2 separate regions of the Homo sapiens genome follow, and region 2 is linked to region 1. The links come from fine-mapping of genetic effects on gene expression. A gene starts in region 1. The other region holds a variant in brackets. All regions are shown on one strand. Distances are from middle to middle. Region 1 holds the start of TXNDC5 (thioredoxin domain containing 5). Region 2 overlaps BLOC1S5-TXNDC5 (BLOC1S5-TXNDC5 readthrough (NMD candidate)).

Evidence for each region.
Region 2: its variant is fine-mapped to the expression of TXNDC5 in whole blood (TOPMed, PIP above 0.99).

Annotation. Positions count from the first base shown.
Region 1 is chr6:7,904,991-7,916,963 of GRCh38, reverse strand. It overlaps TXNDC5 (thioredoxin domain containing 5), which reads left to right and starts at 6,176. Exons shown (of 10, transcript NM_030810.5): 1 at 6,176-6,450. The coding sequence starts at 6,188. All of the region lies in intron 4 of BLOC1S5-TXNDC5 (BLOC1S5-TXNDC5 readthrough (NMD candidate)), which reads left to right. RefSeq lists an enhancer at 3,902-4,051 and silencers at 5,892-6,321, 6,692-6,811, 7,012-7,101.
Region 2 is chr6:7,934,487-7,946,459 of GRCh38, reverse strand. All of the region lies in intron 4 of BLOC1S5-TXNDC5 (BLOC1S5-TXNDC5 readthrough (NMD candidate)), which reads left to right. Among named protein-coding and RNA genes, the nearest start is that of TXNDC5, 30 kb to the right of the region's middle. RefSeq lists an enhancer at 7,527-7,596. The variant GCCCA/A (reference allele first, on the strand shown) is at 5,417.

The sequences.
Region 1 (11,973 bases):
CCCTGGGATGAGGACAGCTTCCAACGAGAGGCTTTGCCATGCACCTACAGGGCTGCTGTCGGAAGGGAGTGCAGCTCCTTGAAGGCTGTGGATTTGCAATAAGAAGGCAGCGTAGACCGGGCGTGGTGGCTCACGCCTGTAATCCCAGCACTTTGGGAGGCCGAGGTGAGTGGATCACGAGGTTAGGAGATTGAGACCAGCCTGGCCAACATAGTGAAACCCCGTCTCTACTAAAAATACAAAAATTAGCCGGGTGTGGTGGCAGGTGCCTGTAGTCCCAACTACTCAGGAGGCTAAGGCAGGAGAATTGCTTGAACCCAGGAGGCAGAGGTTGCAGTGAGCCAAGAGCATGCCATTGCACTCCAGCCTGGGTGACAGAGTAAGAATCTGTCTCAAAAAAAGAAGGCAGTGTAGCAATACTATTTTGCTAGAAGTAGTACTAACTTCTAACAATACAGACCAACATACCTATTGCCTTTTCTGCTTGGGAAAGGCCATGATTTTGAGGGGGGTCTCTCTCAAGCAAGCCATCCTCTGAGGGTAGACAAATGTGACTTTTCATCCATTCCTTCATGCATTCATTCAACAAACAGGTATCGTATTAGTCTGTTTTTGCGCTGCTGATAAAGACATACCTGAGATTGGGCAATTTCCAAAAGAAAGAGGTTTACTGGACTTATAATTCCAAGTGGCCGGGGAGGCATCCCAATCATGGCAGGTGAAAGGCACGTCTCACATGGCAGCAGACAAGAGAAGAGAGCTTATGAAGGAAGTCTCCCCTTTTTAAAACCATCAGATCTCATGAGACTCATTCACTATCATGAGAACAGTGCAGGAAAGACCTTGTCCCCATGATTCAATCACCTCCCACCGGGTTCCTCCCACAACACATGGGAATTGTGGGAGTTACAATTCAAGATGAAATTTGGGTGGGGACACAGCCAAACCATATCAGGTATTAAATGCCTGCTGTGTACCAGACATCACGTAAACACCTCTCAGGCCATGGGGCTTACAGTTTAGAGGGAAAGTCCGAGGCTAAACAAAATTCACACAACCAAATAATTACCCTTCTGTGAAGGGATATGGGGAGAAAGGACAAGATATTAGTGCAGGAAGCCTAACCCCAGCTGGAGGTCAGGGAATTTTTTACTGAGAACATTGTATTATTTCATCGCTGTACACAAATTCAGTTGTATCTTCACTTTTAGGCTTTCTGAGCTGGAAGCCACGCTGCTTGGCGATGGGAATCTAAGCAGGACCATGTGTGGCTGCTACCATATGAAGCAACATGTCAGTCCCTTGGGAGGGCTGGGAGTTCAGAGGAAGTGACGCTGAGCAGCCTGTGTGGAGGGGTGGCCGGGTCATGCAGGAAAGGCCGCATGTGAGAGAAGGTGCCAGGCACAGTGAGTCAGTTTGTTTTGGTGGAGCCTGGGAAAGAGATGTGGTTAGAAAGAGGGGTTCCTTCATCCAACACTTGTTGAGCCTCAACTGTATCCAGGCATTTGGGTGCTAGGGAGAGAGAAGTGAATGTGGCAAATAGCCCCTGGCCTTCGGGGAGCTTATTGATGGAGAAGACGGCCACCTTAACCAGCTAAGTCTGCAACAAAATGGCATCAAATGACAAAAAGTGTTATGCAGAAATTAAACAGCATGGCACTGGTGAGAGCTCAGTGGGCAGAGGGAGGCTGCTGCAGAGAGGGGCTTTGACTTGTCAATGTGGAAAGGCAATCGCCAGGCACTGAGGAGGTGGCGTGGGGGCAAGAGACCTGAGGGTGCAGGGAGTCCAGTCACAGAAGACAGGAAGGGAACAAGCACAGGGCACCACACACAAGGGCCTGAGAAGGGGAATGCTGGGAGGGTATCTAGAATCATCCCTAATGGCTAGAATCTAGGCGAGCAGAGGGCAGAGTGGTATGGGTTGAGATTGCATCTTTCCTGAAGGCCCTTGCAAGCCAAGGCAAAGAGCTGGAATTTGACTGTATGTGAAGGGAAGCCCCTGAAGGAAGTTAAGCAAAGGAGTGACACGATTCAATTCTAGCTGCTGGATGAAGGATGGATGGGAAGGACTTAAGAGTGGAAACAACATTCAGGAGGCTACTGTAGCAGACAGGAAGAGAAGGATATGGCAGCAGTGGAGAGATATCAGTCAGTGGGAGCTGTGGCTCAGAGATGGCAATGATTGGACTTGCTGATGGGGAGATCGAGTAGGAGGCGGGGATCAAGGCACTGCAATAAAGAAAAAGGGTAACAAAGTTTACAACTCAGAGGTCGGGGGTGGTGGCTCACACCTGTAATCCCAGCACTCTGGGAGCCTGAGGCAGGCAGATCACTTGAGGCCAGGAGTCTGAGACAAAGTTTGCAACTCAGGTTTCTGGTTTGTGCAACAGCGAGGAAGAACTATTTACTGAGGAGGGGAAATCGGAGGACAAGCAGATTGCTGCAGGGAAGCACAAGGTCAGCTTCAGCACACCTGCAGGACAAACAAGAGGAGGCATCCTGTAGATAGTGAGAGCTCAGAGAGAGGCCTCGGCTGCAAATGTACACTTTGGCAGCAGCATATAGATGGTGTTAAAGCCATGGCTATGGATGAGATCACCTAGGGAGTGATGCAGAGAAACAAAAGTGGGTTGGAGGCTGAGCGCTGAAAACTGACATCAAAGGTTGGGTTGAAGAGACTGAGGAGTGACGTGGGGATGGTAGGAGGTAGATCAGAGAAGCAGAAAGGACGGTGGATGCAGATGGGGCCAATGGCAGTTGTACCAACGCTGCTGAGAAGCCCAGGAAGATGAGGAACATAAAGTGTTCATTTGACTTGTCAATGTGGACATCTTCAGTGACTTTGAGAAGACTTGGTGTGTGGCAGGTTTGAGAGTCAGAGTGGCATGAGCTGAAGGATGAATGGAAAGTGAAATACAGATAATTTTTTTTTTTTTTTTGCTTATACACTGATGAAAATGGTCCAGTAGGAAGGAGTGATGAGTAACTTGTGCAGGAGAGAAAGAGAGGAGCTGAAGAACAAAGCCTTTGAGCAGGGAGCAGGGAGGGCATATGAGATTCCTAGGGCTGCTGTAACACCACACTCTTGGTGGCATAAAACCACGTACGTTTATTCTCTTACAGTTTTGGAGGTCAGAAGTCCAAAACCAGTTGCACTGGACTATAAATTGTCCACAGGACTGCAGGTCCCTCCAGAGGCTCTGAGGGGGAGTCTATTTCCTTGCTTTTTCCAGCATCTAGAGCTGCTTTTCCTGGCTCTTGGCCCCTTCATCTTCCAAACCAGCAGTTTAACATCTTCAAATCTCTTTCTGCTTTTGTTACGTCGCCTCCGGCTGTGTAGTCAAATTTCCTACTGCCCCTCTGTTATGAGGACACTTGTGATCACATTTAGGACCCACCGAGATAATCCAGGGTAATCTCTCCAGCTCACGACCCTTAATTTAATCACACCTGCAAAGCCTTCTGCCATATAAAGAAACAATCAGATGTTTCAGGAATTAGGACCTGGTTATCCGTGAGGGGCATTATTCTGGAGGACTGGGCTTTGCTAGGCAGGGATATACTGACTTGCTCCTTTGTGGGCAGAGGGAAAGGCGCCTGTGCAGGGGTGTGTAGATTTGGCGGGGGAGGGATAAGGGAGCTCATGCTTTTGGCTTCATTTTTCTCAGAAACATGAGATAAAGCTGGCAGCTGAGAGGATGGCGACTGACAGGGTGGGGTGGGGAGAGGAGAGGAGGAGCAGTGTCAGTGGAAGTATGGAAGCATCTCAGAGAGTGGGGCAGCACACTGCCTAGGCAGAGGTAGTCAGTTTTAGGGCAGGGGTGAGGAGGAATTTAAGGCTTATTTTTACCAGTGTGAAGGAGACATGCGGCTTGACTGTGCGATTTTTCTCCAGCAGAGTCTGGCTACCTGGTTGAAGGCACAGGGAACCCAGAGAGACAAAGCTCACCAGCATCTGTGGGGAGAATGTGGCAGGGCAGGAAGTGAAGGGTGAGACTCCATGGGCTGTAACTTGGCCAAGAGGCAAGAGAAGACATAGCAGTCTGTTGGGCTGCGAGGGGATTGTAGAAGATGGTGGGGTGGGTAGCTCAGAGGTCATGATGAGAAAGAAGCATTGCAGAAATGGGTTTCTTGAGCAAACAGTCGAGGAGGTGCTGGGCAGAGTGGATGCCTTCAGATTTTGGAGATGGTGCAGATGCTGGTGATGACAAGTGCTAGGGTCTCCCTTTTGGGTGTGAGTTACTGAGGGAAAGGTAGATGGAGCATCCACCTGGATGCTGAAGATGCCAGGAATGAAAGACAGGAAAGGGGTGGCCAGGAACACTGTGAGCCAGGAACCAAAGTCTTCACTGAACCAGGAAGAGTGATGTGGAAGAATGACAGGAACTGGCAGGGAAGAGGGTGCCATGCCCAGTGGCATCAATTTAAGGAGTACTGAAGGTTTTGTAGGATTTGGAAGGAGCAATGGGGAACCAGGAAGGCATCAGCTTTACTTCCTGGCTCTGAGGGACTCCAGGTGTGAAAGAATGAGCAGCCAACACTTGAGAGAGCTCCTAGAACTGTGTTTCAGTTAAAAACGAAAGACACTGATGCTGTAAGAGTGTATGGCGATGCTTGTGGGAATTTCCCAACAGCACCGTGGAAGGGTTTGGGAGGTTTGAGGTGTTGGAGAACACAGGGATTAGAGTTTGGCAATAACAGTTATTGGAGAGAATCCCTGGATTTCTAGTGTTGAGTGAGTTTCACAGGGACACAAAGCATGATGCAACCACATCACGGAAGGCCTTGAATGGCTGCCCCAGGCATGACTATTTCACCCCATCGGCCAAGGCCATGGGGACAGTGGTGGCGTTTTGGTCCAAGTTTAAGCAGCAAACTGTCTTGGTCAAAGGCAGGCTTTAGGAAAATTAATTTTCCAGCCATGTGAATGAAAGAGACTCTTAGAAAGCTACTGCAATAGGCCAGGCTTAGTCTCCGTTCAGGGTATGAACACTGAGAATGCTGGAAGGAAATCATGGTTACAGGAAATGCGGTTGAATTTTGAGACACACGGGAAAAGAGCGAGCAATACAAGATGCCTCCCATGTTTCAAGCTTAAGTGGCTGGAAGAACAGACTTTGGAGGGAGATTGATGGTTTTGGTGTTTGGCAACCCATGGTTAAAGGTTCATAAGTGGCTGGGCCTAAGGCGGGAGCAGAATAATGACAGGTGAGACAGTGGGCGCGTCCCCTGTTGCCAAGCCAGGAGTTAACTACCTGGGGCTTCCTGGATTGAGGATAATCAAAGAGCAGGCAGGATCCCGGAGAGCAACCCGGTGATTCTAATTTAGCTTCAGATCCCCGGGGTAGGGCTGGAGCTTTCGATTACCATCTGCTGTAAGGTGTGTGTGCAGGTGCGAGTTATGAGTCGCTGGGCAGGGATGCCTTCGGGCCATTCCACAGGCTGAGTTCAGCCATAGCAGGCGTGCTGTCATTCATTTTAGTAACCGGCATAAATGAGGGCACAGTAGGACCCCAGTCAGTCCTGCTAGGTGCCTTCTTGTCTAGAAGAGGCCGCTTTGACTTTCTTTCCTCTTCATCCCTGAGTTGAGGCCGGGCAGGGGTAACCAGCAAGGGGTTCACTTGGGAAGCGGGTTTCATCACCCCTCTGAGCCCAGGTCGAGAATCACAGTTGAGCTCTGGCCAAGAATCTAACTAATTCAGGTGCAAACCCCACCGTCTTTTGCCCGATTTCCTATATTCTGCTGACAGCAGCTCTCTCCTTCCTTTGGCCTGAAATCGCGGGGTGCTTGTGTGAGCTGAGATTAGCCGAGGCTGACCTGCCCCTCCGTGGCTTCCCGCTGGCCTCATCGTTACTTCGTGTGTTCACCGCCGCTCTGAGCAGAGCGGGCCCCTGGGGAAAGGGGTGCGGGCCTGGGTTGCGGAGGCGCAGGAGCCTCGCGGGATTGGGGCGAGCCGTCCCATGGCGGGAAGGCAGGAGGCCGGACTCGGAAGGCTCTCCCAGACTCGGTCCCTCGCTCCAGCCCTTCCCTGCCGGTGCGCGGAGCCGGGGCTCGGGCGGGTAGCGGTCGCGCGCCGGCGCGGGCGGGCGGGGAGAGGAAGGGGCGCGGCCTCTCCGGGGCGGGGCGCGGGGCGGGCGCTGCGAGGGGACCGGAGGCCGCGGCGAGAGCGCGCCCAGCCCCGCCGCGATGCCCGCGCGCCCAGGACGCCTCCTCCCGCTGCTGGCCCGGCCGGCGGCCCTGACTGCGCTGCTGCTGCTGCTGCTGGGCCATGGCGGCGGCGGGCGCTGGGGCGCCCGGGCCCAGGAGGCGGCGGCGGCGGCGGCGGACGGGCCCCCCGCGGCAGACGGCGAGGACGGACAGGACCCGCACAGCAAGCACCTGTACACGGCCGACATGTTCACGCACGGGATCCAGAGCGCCGCGCACTTCGTCATGTTCTTCGCGCCCTGGTAACGCCGCGCAGGCCGGCGCCCTGCCCCGCACTTGGCGCTTCGCGGGGCGTGGGGCGCTTGGGCGCCGCGGGCGGGGGGTCCCGGGGCCACGTGGACGCCGACGGCTCTGGTCTGCGGCGTGCGTGCTACGGGCGCGGGGCTCGGGGCTCAGGGGTGCGGGGTGTAATACTGGGGGCGCGGGGCCGGGAGCGCGGGGACCCTGCGGGTTCGGGGCTCCGGCTGGCGGGGAGCGGGGGGCGCGGGCGCCGCGGCTCGGGGCCGGGAGCCGGGGACTGCAGGGGACCGAGGGCTTGGGGCTCCGGGTCGGGAGGCGTGAGCTCAGCGGGCCGGGCACTGGCGGCTGACGTGGCGCTCGGCGGCCGGGGCGGTGCGGGAGGAGGGGGCGGACCCCTAGGGGACAGCCGGGAAAAGCCCGCCCTGCGCCGCGCTCCTGAATTCAACCGCCTCTTGCACCTCGGCACCGAGGGAGGGGAAGGTGGGGTCGTCGCCCTTTCGGGCAGCCGGGAGTCCAAATGTCACCCCGCGGTCCCTGCCCAGCGCCCCAAACTTCCTGTGCCGGCCGGACGCGCGGCCTGCCCGTGGGCCACGTGCACTCACCAGAGCGGCCTTGCTGCTGCCGCGGCCACCGGGGTCGGCTGGGACAGACTGCGGGCACGTCCCCTTCCAGAGGCTTTAACTGAAAAATAGAACCCAGGAAGGTGTGGTTTCCCACTTTGTGCGTCTTTTGTGGGATAGGAAGGAGTGGTCCGGGCAGAGGAGGGTTGCTGAGCTACCCCGGGAAGACCAAGGTAGTGCGAATTCTGGAACCCCTCCGCCCCCCTGCAGCTCAGGGTGGATGTAATCTCTGAACGGAGCCCACTGGTCCTCAACTCCAGGCTGTCCTGTCACCTCCCTGCTGCTCTCTCGGGTCCAGGTCACTTGTTATGTGTGAGATCGGAAAAGCCCCTCCGTTGAGCAGATGGTCCCTCTTGCTTTGGTTCTCTGGGCGAGGCTTTGGTGTGGGCCTCGCTGCTGACCTGAGAGACCCTACCCTGGCACTCATCCCACGGAAGAGCTTCCTGTCATTCACACAAGCATGTGCACAGCTTTCCTGCCAGTGCCGGGATGCCCCGAGGAAGGGAAGTGACCACAGGCCAGAGCAGAAAGCCATAATTTTAGGACACAAGACCTTTGAGAGGTTGGAATAGCCTGCAGGTTCTTGTTGCAGAACTTGGTATTCTTCCCCAGAGCTCAGTAGAGGCTCACTTGGGAAAGGGATGTAGGGAGGCATAGAGAAAAGGTACCCTAAGAAAAATGGCCAGTTCAGAAATTGTACCTTTCAAACTGGGAGAAACGTTTTTCTCTTAACCTTGTATTCAGGCTATTACTGCGTTTCAGTTCATTTGGAGTTAAATCAACTTTTAGGGCCACTGTGGGTTTATTAACAATGTGTATATGAAGTACATTATGTTTCACATTCCTAAGAACCAACTGACTCGAATTTTTACAACTCCAATGGTTTAGAAATTACTTTGTAACATAAAACAATCAGGCAGTATTAACAGTTTCTCTTTGTTCGGGAGTATTCTCAGCAACTATTTCAATTAAGTGTACTACTTAATTGGAGCCTATTTCAGTGGAATACATCTGTCGATGGGTTTTCTTTTTTCTTTCTTCATTATTTATTTATTTTAGAGATGGGATCTTGCTCTGTTACCCAGCCTGAAACCAGTGGTACGCAGCCGCAGCTCACTGTAGCCTCTAACTCCTGGGCTCAAGTGATTCTCCTGCCTCAGCCTCTGAAGTAGCTGTGACTACAGGCGCAGGTCATCACACCCAGCTTATTTTGTTGTTGTTGTTTTTGTTGTAGTTGGTAGAAACAGGGTCTCGCTATGTTGCCGGGGCTGGTCTCAAACTCCTGGCCTCAATCAGTACTTCTGCCCTGGCCTCCCAAAGTACTGAGATTACAGGCATGAGCCATCGCATCCCATTCTTTACTTTTTTTTTTTTTTTAAAGAAAAACTGACATGCAGATGTAATAAGTCCCCACAGTGCCAAAGGAATTTTAAGTTTAGAATCTTTGCAATAAATACCAGCTAGTCCTGGGCTGAGTGAGAGAAAACTGGCACATCTGGGCACTTGGTATTAAGTAAATTCCTTTTCCATTATATGTGGCTTGTAGACATTTAGCTGGATGCTTCCAGAATAATTAGCTTTATGTTGTTACTTTTTTTTTTTTTTTTTTTTTTTGAGATGGAGTCTTGCTCTGTTGCCAGGCTGGAGTGCAGTAGCGCAATCTTGATTTACTGCAACCTCCACCTCCTGGGTTTAAGCGATTCTCCTGCCTCAGCCTCCTGAGAAGCTGGGACTACAGGTGCGTGCCACCACGCCCAGCTAATTTTTGTATTTTTAGTAGAGATGGGGTTTCACCATGTTGGCCAGGATTGTCTCGATCTCTTGACCTCGTGTTCTGCCCGCCTCTTCCTCCCAAAGTGCTGGGATTACAGGCGTAAGCCACCGCACCTGGCATATTTGTTGACTTCTTGATAGTCTACTACAAATACTTAAACAGAGATATGTGGGTTTCTATGATGGTGTTTAAGTTGGACTTTTAAGAGGGCCCTTTCAGAAAACTGCAGATACTGCAGTAGGGCTCACGAATAGGCTGCCAGGAAAGGAGGCTGAGTGGGCGGCGAGTCAAATGGGAGGTCAGCAGGGGCAAGATCAAGTAGGACCAACAATACCTGGCACAACACTTTGGTAAGTTGTAAGGCTGAGAGCAAGGTGGTGACTCTGGAGGGGTCTATGCAGGAGAGGGAAGGAGGTCCTGGAGTGGTGAGCTGAGCGTTTGGAGCTCAGATAGAAGACTCAGTGGACTCCCCCTCAACACACACATACCTTTTTCCAGTTTCAGCTGCCGTGGAGTGGTGAAAGCCCACGTGTGATTAAGGGGCTGGGGCCCCTGTAACAAAAACATCAATCTGTGTATTTTTGCCCTGCACTTGGCTTCTGCAGGGTTATCCTGCTGCTGTAGATTTTTTGCCAACATCAGGTCACAACTTCTGTATGGCCAGTTTGTGAGTCACCCTGAACCTGGTGACAGTGAGGTCAAGATTTGGACCAGGTAGCTTTGCTCTACTTCTTGGCCACAGGCTACCTTCTGAGTGCAGCTGCCTGTCTCAGAGTTGGGTGCTGTAGCCGCAGGGCCGACTAGATAGCACCTGTGGCCCCATCACAGCCAGGAGCAAGGGCACGCCCAACTTGGTGATGGCCCAGAATGGTCAGTTTTGATTTAGCGCACCACAAACTTATTTATTGTTTATTCTCATTCTTAATCTAATCTTGTGTTTTCTCAAAAAAAAAAAAGGGAAAAAAAAAGCAGTAGCAAAACAAAACCTTGTCAAGATTGCAGAGGAGTTCTAAAGTTCCAGAATGAGCATATCTGATCAAAGTCCCCTGAAGGTCAGAACTGCCCTTGACAGTCCCTTAGGAAGGTGCCTTGTTGGACACCGCCCCAGTCAGTCAGTCAGTCCCCACTGCCAGCGTTTCCTCCAGCATTAGAACTATCATGGCTTCTTTGGTTAAACACCAAATGGACTAGTTCTCAAACCTGTGCCTTTAGACAGCAGGGTCACACTTAATGTAGTCGGAGAGATGCTCATGCCATGAGAAGCATGTAGGAACCAAGGCCTGCTGAGGAACAAAAACCTCACATCTCCCAGCTTGCACACACTTCAGGGTTCTGTGGGAATTGCCTTTTTTTTTTTCTTGTTTCCTTCTCCCCCGCCACATAAACTCACTTTGTTGAATCTACAGAAGTTAAATCTGCATGTATAGTTTCATTGTGCTTTTTTTTTTGTATCTGAGTATCTCATAAAGCAGGGATTCTCTTAGCTGGCCAAGAAAGTGCTGTTTAGGGAAGACACATTAACTTGAAGCAGACTTTTTCAGTGCTACCTTTAAGTCTGTTTTTCTTTTTTTTTTTTTTTTTTTTTTGAGATGGAGTCTTGCTCTATCGCCCAGGCTGGAGTGCAATAGCATGGTCTCGGCTCACTGCAACCTCCGCCTCCCGGGTTCAAGCGATTCTCCTGCCTCAGCCTCCTGAGTAGCTGAGATTACAGGCGTGTGCCACCATGCCCAGCTAATTTTTGTATTTTTAGTAGAGATGGGGCTTCACCTTGTTGGTCAGGCTGGTCTCGAACTCCTGACCTTGTGATCCGCTTGCTTCGGCTTCCCAAAGTGCTGGGATTATAGGTGTGAGCCACCACACCCGGCTTAAATCCTTTTTTTCTTAAGAGACAAAATCTCTGTCACCCAGGCTGGAGTGCAGTGGTGTGATCATAGCTCGCTGCAGCCTCAAACTTCTGGCCTCAAGTGATCCCTCTGCCTCAGCCTCCCAGGTAGCTAGGACTGCAGGTGTGTGCCACCACACCAGGCTAATTTTTTAAAATTTTTTGTAGATGGGGGTCTCACTGTGTTGCCCAGGCCAGTCTTGAACCCCTGGGCTCAAGCAGCTCTCCTGCCTTGGCCTCCCAAAGTGCTGGGATTACAGGCATGAGCCACTGCTACCGACTTAAATGCTTATTTTTGAGGTAATCTGTCAGAAAATAAAAGGAGATTTAACAGATTATTAAATTATTTTGAGGAAGAAGTCACAATTCTAAGCGTTGAGTGTTCATATAAGCAAGTGTGTTTAAAAAAAAAGCATTTTAAAAAGCGATACAGCAAAGTGGTTACATTGTAGGCATCAGTGTGTTCCTGCCATATTAAATAGCAAACAAACCCATGTGTCATAATGCTATGGGATTGTAGTTGAAACCTGGGATAAAGTTTCTAGGGTTGTCTCATTCAAAATTCGAGTATGGCACTGTAGACATACTGTCCAGAGAACACAGCAAGAGCTGTGGTCAGCTGTATGACTTAAGGTCTAGTGTTGGGAAAGATGCTGATATCCTCATGAAATGTGAAGCATGGCAAGAAGCCTAGTTAAGATACTATTTTAAATGATGGGTGATTTTAAAATATTTATACATAACTGAATTCATACAATGAATACTAAGAATAGACATTTGCTTACTTCAACCCTAGAAGTATAGGTGGCCACAAACTTTTTTTTTCCCCTTCTCATTGGAGAAAATTGCAGGTGATTAAATTTTGAGATTGCCTTATGTTTGTAGCCATTTGGTTATATAGTGGAGGAGACTTGACGAATAAAAGTAGCAGATACAGCAGGAAGTGCTAAGCTACTGTCCAAGGGAGGAGTAGAGAGGCTTTCCAGAAGGGCAGGAGAAGAGAATGGGTGCTGAACAGCCCGGGGAGTCAGGGCCAACTTGCTAGAGGAAGTGACACCCAAACTAAACCTGAAGGGCAGATAGATTTAGCTAGGTGGAGTTTAGGGACGAAGTGTCAGAGAGAATGTGTCCCAGGGCCAAGCCAAGCTATAGTCCTTTGGGAACACTGCAGATGCTGCAGTAGGGCTCAGGAGTAGGCCACAAGGGAAGGAGGGTGGACTCTGGGATAGAAGTCAAGCGGGAGGTCAGC
Region 2 (11,973 bases), 29 kb before region 1:
ACCTGCCCCTGAATGACTACTGGGTACATAACAAAATGAAGGCAGAAATAAAGATGTTCTTTGAAACCAACGAGAGCAAAGACACAACATACCAGAATCTCTGGGACACATTTAAAGCAGTGTGTAGAGGGAAATATATAGCACTAAATGCCCACAAGAGAAAGCAAGAAAGATCTAAAATCGACACCGTAACATCACAATTAAAAGAACTAGGGAAGCAAGAGCAATCACATTCAAAAGCTAGCAGAAGGCAAGAAATAACTAAGATCAGAGAAGAACTGAAGGAAATAGAGACACAAAAAACCCTTGAAAAAATCAATGAATCCAGGAGCTGGTTTTTTGAAAAGATTAACAAAATTGATAGACTGCTAGCAAGACTAATAAAGAAGAAAAGAGAGAAGAATCAAATAGACGCAATAAAAAAATGATAAAGGGGATATCACCACCGATCCCACAGAAATACAAACTACCATCAGAGAATACTATAAACACTTCTATGCAAATGAACTTGAAAATCTAGAAGAAATGGATAAATTCTTTGAAACATACACCCTCCCAAGACTAAACCAGGAAGAAGTTGAATCTCTGAATAGACCAATAACAGGCTCTGCAATTGAGGCAATAATTAATAGCTTACCAACCAAAAAAAGTCCAGGACCAGATGGATTCACAGCCGAATTCTACCAGAGGTACAAGGAGGAGCTGGTACCATTCCTTCTGAAACTATTCCAATCAATAGAAAAAGAGGGAATCCTCCCTAACTCATTTCATGAGGCCAGCATCATCCTGATACCAAAGCCTGGCAGAGACACAACAAAAAAAGAGAATTTTATACCAATATCCCTGATGAACATCGATGCAAAAATCCTCAATAAAATACTGGCAAACCGAATCCAGCAGCACATCAAAAAGCTTATCCACCATGATCAAGTGGCCTTTATCCCTGGGATGCAAGGCTGGTTCAACATACACAAATCAATAAACGTAATCCAGCATATAGACAGAACCAATGACAAAAACCACATGATTATCTCAATAGATGCAGAAAAGGCCTTTGACAAAATTCAACAGCCCTTCATGCTAAAAACTCTCAATAAACTAGGTATTGATGGGACACATCTCAAAATAATAAGAGCTATCTATGACAAACCCACAGCCAATATCATACTGAATGGGCAAAAACTGGAAGCATTCCCTTTGAAAACTGGCACAAGACAGGGATGCCCTCTCTCACCACTCCTATTCAACATAGTGTTGGAAGTTCTGGCCAGGGCAATCAGGCAGGAGAAGGAAATAAAGGGTATTCAATTAGGAAATGAGGAAGTCAATTTGTCCCTGTTTGCAGATGACAAGATTGTATATCTAGAAAACCCCATTGTCTCAGCCCAAAATCTCCTTAAGCTGATAAGCAACTTCAGCAAAGTCTCAGGATACAAAAATCAATGTGCAAAATTCACAAGCATTCTTATACACCAATAACAGACAAACAGAGAGCCAAATTATGAGTGAACTCCCATTCACAATTGCTTCAAAGAGAATAAAATACCTAGGAATCCAACTTACAAGGGATGTGAAGGACCTCTTCAAGGAGAACTACAAACCACTGCTCAAGGAAATAAAAGAGGATATAAACAAATGGAAGAACATTCCATGCTCATGGGTAGGAAGAATCAATATCATGAAAATGGCCATACTGCCCAAGGTAATTTATAGATTCAATGCCATCCCCATCAAGCTACCAATGACTTTCTTCACAGAATTGGAAAAAAACTACTTTAAAGAACTAAAAAAGAGTCTGCATTACCAAGTCAATCCTAAGCCAAAAGAACAAAGCTGGAGGCATCACGCTACCTGACTTAAAACTATACTACAAGGCTGCAGTAACCAAAACAGCATGGTACTGGTACCAAAACAGATATATAGACCAATGGAACAGAACGGAGCCCTCAGAAATAATGCCACATATCTACAACCATCTGATCTTTGACAAACCTGACAAAAACAAGAAATGGGGAAAGGATTCCCTATTTAATAAATGGTGCTGGGAAAACTGGCTAGCCATATATAGAAAGCTGAAACTGGATCCCTTCCTTACACCTTATACAAAAATTAATTCAAGATGGATTAAAGACTTAAATGTTAGATCTAAAACCATAAAAACCCTAGAAGAAAACCTAGGCAATACCATTCAGGACATAGGTGTGAGCAAGGACTTCATGTCTGAAATACCAAAAGCAATGGCAACAAAATCCAAAATTGACAAATGGGATCTAATTAAACTAAAGAGCTTCTGCACGGCAAAAGAAACTACCATCAGAGTGAACAGGCAACCTACAGAATGGGAGAAAATTTTTGCAATCTACTCATCTGACAAAGGGCTAATATCCAGAATCTACAAAGAACTCAAACAAATTCACAAGAAAAAAAACAACCCCATCAAAAAGTGGGTGAAGGATATGAACAGACACTTCTCAAAAGAAGACATTTATGAAGCCAAAAGACACATGAAAAAATGCTCATCATCACTGGCCATCAGAGAAATGCAAATCAAAACCACAATGAGATACCATCTCACACCAGTTAGAATGGTGATCATTAAAAAGTCAGGAAACAACAGGTGCTGGAGAGGATGTGGAGAAATAGGAACACTTTTACACTGTTGGTGGGACTGTAAACTAGTTCAACCATTGTGGAAGTCAGTGTGGTGATTCCTCAGGGATCTAGAACTAGAAATACCATTTGACCCAGCCATCCCATTACTGAGTATATACCCAAAGGATTATAAATCATGCTGCTATAAAGACACATGCACATGTATGTTTATTGTGGCACTATTCACAATAGCAAAGACTTGGAACCAACCCAAATGTCCAACAATGATAGACTGGATTAAGAAAATGTGGCACATATACACCATGGAATACTATGCAGCCATAAAAAATGGTGAGTTCATGTCCTTTATAGGGACATGGATGAAGCTGGAAACCATCATTCTCAGCAAACTATCGCAAGGACGAAAAACCAAACACCACATGTTCTCACTTATAGGTGGGAATTGAACAATGAGAACACTTGGACACAGGAAGGAGAACATCACACACCGGGGCCTGTTGTGGGGTGGGGGAAGGGGGAGGGATAGCATTAGGAGATATACCTAATGTAAATGATGAGTTAATGGATGCAGCACACCAACATGGCACATGTATTCATATGTAACAAACCTGCACGTTGTGCACATGTACCCTAAAACTTAAAGTATAATAATAAAAAAAAAAGAGGTTTAATTGGACTCACAGTTCCACGTGGCTGGGGAAGCCTCACAATCATGGTGGAAGGTGAGGAGGAGCAAAGTCACATCTTATGTGGATGGCAGCAGGCAAAGAGCAAGCTTGTGCAGAGAAACTCCTGTTTTTAAAACCATCAGATCTTATGAGACCCGTTCACTATCAAGAGAGCAGCATGGGAAAAACCCACCTCCATGATTCGATCATCTCCCACTGGGTCTCTCCCACAACATGTGGGAATTATGGGAGCTACAAGATGAGATTTGGGTGGGGACACAGAGCCAACCCATATCACCCTTTTAGATGAAAAGTTGTTTATACACCAATGACCCCTGGCTGCAGACATGGTATTGGGAATACACATGATAGCAGAATTTGGGGTTGTGATGACAGAAAACATAAAGAATGCTGAAGGTCAGAATATTTGGGTTCTATTTCCTTCTTTTCCACTTGTTAGCACTATCACAGGAAGCAAGAATCTTGATGTGCTTAACTCTAATTTTTCTCATCTCTCAACATGGAGAATAACACAATTTGCTTTATAGACCTCCAAGGAATGCAGTGAGGACAGGTCATGGGGGAAGATGAGGTGAGGGTGCTTTGCGAGGGGACTTTATAAACACAAGGTGTTGCTCCGTGCCTTGATGAGTGCCTGTGGAGCAACCAGGAGGCCAAGGGATTCCTGTGGAAAGAAAATTGAGGTGAGAAGGGGGGCCATCTAAGAGGACTTTGCTTTATCTCCATTGGTAGAATTTTAAGTAATGAGCATGTTTTAATAGATTACTTGTAATTTTAAAATGAAAGTGTACAGAAATAAAATAGGATGTTTTTTAAGGAAGATTAAATCAGTTATAGAAGTTTAATGTAAAAGAAGTAACTCATTTTTTCTTCCGCTGTAGTTCCACAATTCTTCATTATTCTGAAATCCAAAAAGTTTTGAAAGCAAAGACTTTTTTTCATACATTTTCAGCAAGCTTATTTGATCATAAAACATAATCTTCGCTAATGTGAGGCTAGTTTTTATTTCTGTACTTACACTTTTTGTAAATGTACACAGTGTTAACATGCTATGTAATATACAGGAACTAACTTTTGAAAATCTTAAAATTCTGATATACCAGATTTTATATAAGGAATGGTGCGTACCTGAATATGGATATTAAGTTCATGAATAAAACACATGCTCTAGTAGTTTTATTCAGGGTAAATTTATGAGCCAGTAGATTTATTCAGGCTAAATCTATGAGCCTCAGATCTGGTAATATTTTCGAGAGCATAATTCAGTACAACAAACATTTACTGAGCAGGTTCTGCTATGGTTTGCATGTTTGTCTCTTCTATTGAGATTACGTTGAAACTTAATCTCTAAGGTGGCAGTACTGAGAGGTGGGGCCTTTAAGAGGTTATTGGGTCATGAGGGCTCTGCCCTCATAAATGGGTTAATCCATTCATGGATTAATGGATCAGTGGGTTAATAGACTAATTGGGTTGTCATAGGAGCGGTACTGATGGCTTTATCAGAAGAAGAGAGATGTAAGCTAGCACACTCAGCCCCCTCACTACATGATGACTTGTGTTGCCTCGGGATTCTGCAGAGAGTCCCCACCAGCAAGAAGGCCCTCACCAGATGCAGCACCTTGACCTTAGACTTCTCAGCTTTTATAACTGTAAGAAATAAATTCCCTTTCTCTATAAATTACCCAGTTTCAGGTATTCTGTTATAAGCAACAGAAAATGGACTAAGTTTCTTTGTATGGGAATATAAAGACTAGCAAGTGGTGATTGCTGCTCCCAAGGAATTTGCATTGTAGTGGGGAAAACACTTCTATTTTAATTTAACACAAGGTATATTGAGTTCACTGCTGTAACAGGATGATAATCAGATCACAAAGATGGGTGAGAGCCCAGGGCCGGGCCCGGAAGGTGACGGAATCCATTCTGCATGCAGCAAGGAGGGAGAGAAGATTGTTTAAAGGCTCAATATTTTCAGTCCTTTTTCTTTCTAAATAGTACATTGTGTTGTTGACACTCTTTCTGTGAGCAGTAAGGGATCCTGTGGATTCAGCATTCCCCAAATATTCCCCAGGGTGATGAGACACACTGAAGGTGTAAAGATTGGGGGAACAGCGCCC[GCCCA/A]GTCATTCCAAACTATGGCGAGTCGATAGTCTTCCTTACCAGAGGTGGCGCTGTGGCAGAGAAGACTTAGTGCGGGGGTTCAGAAATGCCAGTTGCCCCTAAGCCCCATTTTGGGGGGTGGTTGATATTGAAATACATTGGTCTTAAAGCCACCAATAGAGTTGTGGATAGTGAAGAAAGACACTGATGATTAAAATGTAATTAAAACCAGTTTTTCCACTAACCCTATTTTGGCCAGACCAAGTGCTGAGATTTAATAAATAAGAGACCAGATAATTTTTTTTTTTATCTCTTGGTGCCTTATTTATATCCAGGGTGGCTTATGACTTTAGTGCTTCTATTATTGCCCGCCGCCCCTTCCTTCCTTCCTTCCGTTCATTCTTTCTTTCTTTCTTTCTTTCTTTCTCTCTCTCTCTCTTTCTTTCTTTCTTTCTTTCTTTCTTTCTTTCTTCTTTCTCTTTCTTCTTTCTTTCATTCTTTCTCTTCGTTTCTTTTTTCTTCTCTCTCATTTTCTTTCTCTCTCTCTTTCTTCTTTTTTCTTTTTGTTTTCTGTGGAATCTGCCTCTTTTTCTTTTATTTCCACTTTTATGATTACTAGAAAGCCATGGTTCCATAATATGGATATAATAGCATATCTGGGATGACCGTGACTCCAGAGCTGCAGGTAGAAACAGCTCCAGGTCATGTAAAGAAGGTGTGTGTCCTTTAATGGAAGATAATTTGAGCATTAAAAAAAAAAAATGTCCAGCCTTCCATCAAACACAGGAGAGCAGTTGCAGAATTAGCAGTCAGGAAACACTGTCTTTATGATCCATGACAACTTCAGTAGCTGTGTGGCATGCGTGAGCTCTGGTGGCCTAACTGAAAAGCCCTGGTGATTAGCAGTACAGCAGAGAGAAGTGCAAAGGAGTAACAGCACAATAGCATAGGCACTGGTTTAAATCTCAGCCTCCAGAGCTCCAAGTTGTGAAAGCTCTAACAGGAAAGGGCTGCAAACTCACATCGTTCCACGCAGAGGGAGCTGTGGCTCATGGCTCTGGGGAAAGCTAATGGCTCCTTGTCGTGACCATAATTTCATTGTAGTGGCAGTTGCCAAACCCAAAGAGAAAACGGAGAGGAGAACAACTTTTATGAAACTATTTCCTCTCAAACACACAAAACTTGTCAACTTAGTTAGAGCTGTATTCCTCCCAGGGGATGCCATCTTCTGGGCTGTCAAACCCATAACATTTGTGGGTGGCAAGATGATGTCATCTGTGTTCGGCAGCTTGTAGTAATTTCCACTGTGAGCCCTGCGCAGAGGTTGAGATGATTGCCATAAATGGGATCTAAGCTTACAGATGAAAGCCTCACTTTTCGTTTCCATTGAGTTCACAATACTCTTTAGCAGGATGACAATTGTGCTGTCGTCAACATTACATCATGCTATCTCCCTCGAAATGGCATCATTCAAGCGTGTGAGCACAGCTGTGAAAACAAAACAGATTTTGCTGTGAGCTTAGTAAATCCTCAAAGCACATTCTAATTGGTTTGCTTGTTTAAAAGTAATATCAAAAATATAATGTCAAAATTGTTGCTGCTGCAAGTGAGTCAGAGAGAAGTTCAGGAGCTCCGGAGGCCCTGAGAGATCAGGCGTGGGTGCTGTGACTGGGCCCTGTCAGTAGAGCCCCTGTCAGGAGTCTTGTTCCTGCGTGGAGGCCCAGTGTGAGCTTGGGTAGAAGTGCTCCTGACAGCCCATGGAGCAAACGCCGGCCTGCCATGCAAATTCCCCTTAGTCCACAAGGCTGGGGGGCACTTATATCACCAGCTGATAACTATGGGGGACCAAGTGATTATTTCCCAATCTGAAGACAACATTTACTATAACCACTATCAAGATCTGCAAGGCTGAGCACCTTTGACAATGAATAATTCCACATCTGGAGAAGCATCCCATCAAATAAATGTAACAACAGTATATAATAAGCAGATACTGTCAGCTCACAGTGCAAAGCAGAAGAAGCTTCCTGATGTTGGAATAAGTGTCAGCTGACAAGATGTTTCCTAGATGAACAGGAAAGGCTGACATGACTGACTGTGGATTAAAATGTGAACCAAAGGAAGGTTTACTTCCTTTATTCTACAAATGGCAAAAACTGCCTAACTCACAGAATGTGCCTAGTTGGTGGCTACCAGAAATGGCTTTACTATACTTTGTGTAAAAAGTGTGTCACTTGGACCTCTGAGACACATACTGGAGAGTCACCGGCAGAGAGTTCTGAGCAGTTCAGGACTTCAGGTTGTTCTCCTTCTGGACAGCAGGACAGTGCTGGAGCTCTCTTAGCTCCTCGGTCTTGTCTTGTGTTGTGTTAAAAAAGTGCAGAGAGGGGAATAAAAAGAGGAAGTTCACCAGGACAGCAGAAAAAAGGTGCCTCCGTGCCACTGCACTCCAGCCTGGGGGACAGAGTGAGACTCCGTCTCAAACAACAACAACAAAAAAAGGCGCCTCCTTCAAAGAGCCGTGTATCCCTAGGCAGAAGCCATCTAGTTGGAGCCAGCAATGATTCATTCCTGGGATTCACGTCTCCTTCCAAAATGGAAGGATATTCGGAGGCTCGGTATTGCCAAGTGAGGGAAGATTTGGAGGTGGTTTACTTTGCTGGGGCTGCCATAACAAAGTACGCGAGACTGGGTAGCTCAAACACCAGGGTTGGTTTCTCCTGAGGCCTCTCTCCTTGGCTTGTAGATGACATCTTCTCCCCATGTCCCCATGTGGTCTTCCCCCTGTGATTCTGTGTCCTAATCCCCTACTTGTAAGGACACCAGTCATACTGGCTGAGGACCCACCCACCCTAATTGTCTCCCTTTAACTTAATTATCTCTGTAGAAAACCTGAGGTCCTGGGGGTTAGGACTTCTACTTTTGAATTTGGGAGGGGCACAACATAGCCCATAACAGAGAGCATCTTCAGAGTCCGTGTCTCCTGCAGCTAAACTCAGGCACGCTTTTGGCCTCACCGGACAGGATTGCCATGGTGTGACTAGGAAGGACCACTCGAGAATCTCGGGCCAGGTGCGTGGCTCAGGCCTGTAATCCAGCAACTTTGGGAGGCTGAGGCCAGCGGATCATTTGAGTTCCAGACCAGCCTGGCCAACATGTTGAAACCCCGTCTCTACTAAAAATAAAAAAATTAGCCTGGTGTGGTGGTGCGCACCTGTAATTCCAGCTACTCTGGAAGCTGAGGCAGAAGAATTTCTTGAACCTGGGAGGCGGAGGTTGCAGTGAGCCGGGATTGCACCACTGCACTCCAGCCTGGGCAACAGAGTGAGACTCTGTCTCAATTAAAAAAAAAAAAAAAGAATATCAAGGATGACACCATTTGGGTTTGTCTTTAGAGCTCGACTGTAAAATTCCATCACTAGCCTTATTTGCATTTAAAAACTGCTTATCGTCCTACACAAGGGACAAAGTTTAGAACTGCTATGGAAAATTTTTTTTCCTAGGGGAAGAGTTAATTTCTCCCTTCACTTCTGCCAACAGAAGTTTCCAGGGTGTAGGGCACTTCTTAAAGTCCTTATGAGGTCCTCATTATTGTGTCTATTTTGCAGACAAAAAACTTTGCCAGCAAGTCTTTGGCAGAGACAGCCCTGTAACTCAGAAATTCCAGACTCCAGCCTCAGTGACACAGATGTGAGCAGTGGTAGCTGCTACCACTGCCGACGAGTAGCTCTTTCTGGTGGGGTCCCTGGAGCTGCTCGGCTGAACATAGCAACACAACACACCTCAGAACCCCACGACTCTTCCTTTGATACAAAAGGGAGGTTGCTGCTGTGGGTGTCAGGGTTTGGCTGGAGCAACAAAAATCACATTTATGTTTATGAAAAATTGCAGAGAGTTTTTTTAATTGAGCAGAAAAATTATACTTACATCACTGAGGTTTGTCCATCATTAAATGCATGTGGTATATTTTATATTATGTCTGACCTAGGTGTGTGAGGCTGTAGATTCTTCTGTGTTTAAACACTGAGCAAGGAGGCACAACTGAGTAAATACTAGGTATCCAAGACCTGATTTTTTATGAACTTGGCTTCACAGTTCTCCCATTATTAGTAAGTCTGAAGACTTAGGATATTACATTGATTTTGTTACCTGAATGCAATCAGTTGTTAAAGTTTCTTAACCTTTTATGTTTACACATATGGATTAAAAAGAGAAGATAAAGAAGATAACAAAGACATAGCCACAGGAGATGAAATATGGAATAAAGGCTGGGTGCGGTGGCTCATACCTGTAATCCTAGGACTTCAGGAGACCAGTGGCGGATCATCTGAGGTCAGGAGTTTGAGACCAGCCTGGCCAGCTGATGGAAATCTGTCTCTACTAAAAATACAAAAATTAGTTGGGCGTGGTGGTGGGCACCTGGAATACCAGCTATTTGGGAGGCTAAGGCAGGAGAATCACTTGAACCCAGGAGGCAGAGGTTGCAGTGAGCCGAGACTGCACCATTGTACTCTAGCCTGGGCAACAAGAGAGAAACTCTGTCTCAAAAAAAAAAAAAAAGAAAGAAAGAAAGAAAGAAAAAGAAAAAAAGAAATATGGACTAAAATTCTCTAAAAAAAGATTTTTATTTCTATGGAGTTATAACTTCACTAAACAGCAAAGAGAGAAGAAGAGAAAATATACTTGTTAAATTTTTAAAAATATTTTTGTAAGTTTTTCATAAGAGATTCTGTTTATAAGTAACTTTGAAATTAATTTTATTGTCTTTGGTACCAGAAATTTTGACTCAAACAAAGAAAGTTTGGATATGTGCATTAAGTGAAATAGATGTGTTGAGTGATGCAGTATCCTTCGGAAGTAAAAAGGAATAAACTGATGCATCTTTAGACATTTGAATGTCAAGCACTGAGAAGTTGCCTTTTTTCAGAGACAGGTGTTAATTTACTCTGAATTAGTGTACATATAATAAGTGGTAGGATATTTCTAAATCAGCTATTTATTAAATAAAATACAATAGGGACTGTGGAGTCTTTCACTGGTTAGTGAAGGTATTAAAGTTTGCTCAAACTTCTTAATTTAAAGCAAATAAATTTACAAATAGATTAATTGTGAAGGCAGTGTCCAGTTTACAGTCCATATACTCTACAATGCAAAAATAATAAAAATTCTAAATTTTCAGGTTTAGAATGTGCAATTTGGAAGGTTCATATAGTTTAAGAGAAAAGGAAGGGAAAAAAAACCGTTGTAATCACCACACCTAAGATAATTATGCTTTTTTACTTTTTCATTTTGAGACAGAGTCTCATTGTGTCACCCAGGCTGGAGTGCAGTGGCACAATCTTGGCTCACTGCAACCTCCACCCCCCTGGCTCAAGCAATTCCCCTGCCCCAGCCTCCCGAGTAGCTGGGATTACAGGTGCATGCCACCACGCCTGTCTAATTTTTTTGTATTTTTAGTAGAGATGGGGTTTCACTGTGTTGGCCAGACTGGTCTTGAACTCCTGACCTCAGGCAATCCACCTGCCTTGGCCTCCCAAAGTGCTGGGATTACAGGCATGAGCCACCATGCCCGGCCTGCTCTTTCATTTGAAAAAGATGTTCTGGTCTCTCAGGTAAAGATGTTTGGGTTGGGGACACAATTTATTTCTAAACACTAATTCCACAACCAATTCTACATAAATAACCTAAGAAAAGTAAATTTAGCAAAAGCCTCTACTTATACAGAAATCTAAGGAAGAAAATCATTAAAACGGCAGAAAGAAGTCCCACCTTGAGGGATGACACAGCCTCCCGGGAAGTGATGGGCAAAGTTCTGTTCCCTGTGAATCTCTAGGCTTGGAGGGCAGAGTTCTGGAGGAAAGAGTGGGCTGCGAAACTCACCTGGGGCTATGGTCTGAATGTTTGTGTCCCTACCAAATTCATATGTTGAAACCTAATCACCAGTGTGCTGGTATTAGGAGGTGAGTCTTTGGGAGGTGGTGAGATCATGAGGGTGGAGTGCTTGTGAATGGGATTAGTGCCCTTATAATAGAGGCCAGAGAGCTGCCTTCCCCTTTTCACTATGTGAGGACACAGTAAGAAGGCACCATCTGTGAAACAGCAAGAAGACCTCCCTAGAAACTGAATCTACCAGCACCTTGACCTTGGACTTCCCAGCCTCCAAAACTGTGAGCAATAACTTTCTGTTGTTTCTAAGCCACCCAGTCTGGTGGTATTGTTACAGCAGCCCGAATGAACTAAGATACCTGGAAAGCTCCAGGTGAAGGGAGTCTAGGTATGTGGACTGCCAGGATCCCTGTTTTGGGGGTCAATGCAGGAACTCAGAGGTCCAGATGACTGCAATTAGTGAAGAACTGTGGTTCTGTGGCTCTGGGGAGAGGAACTTACGCTTTTCCCAGTGTAAAGATGATCCTAACTGTGGTGATGAGCAGCCTGGTAAAACTGTGCGGGAGGCTGCAGAGAGAGGACCCCCCACACTGAACAAGAAGCTGCTGGTCCTGGTGGGAGCAGCATCCCTGGATGGGGGCTCACAGAAAGGCCAGTCTTTGTTGACACAGTGAAAGCTATATAGAAA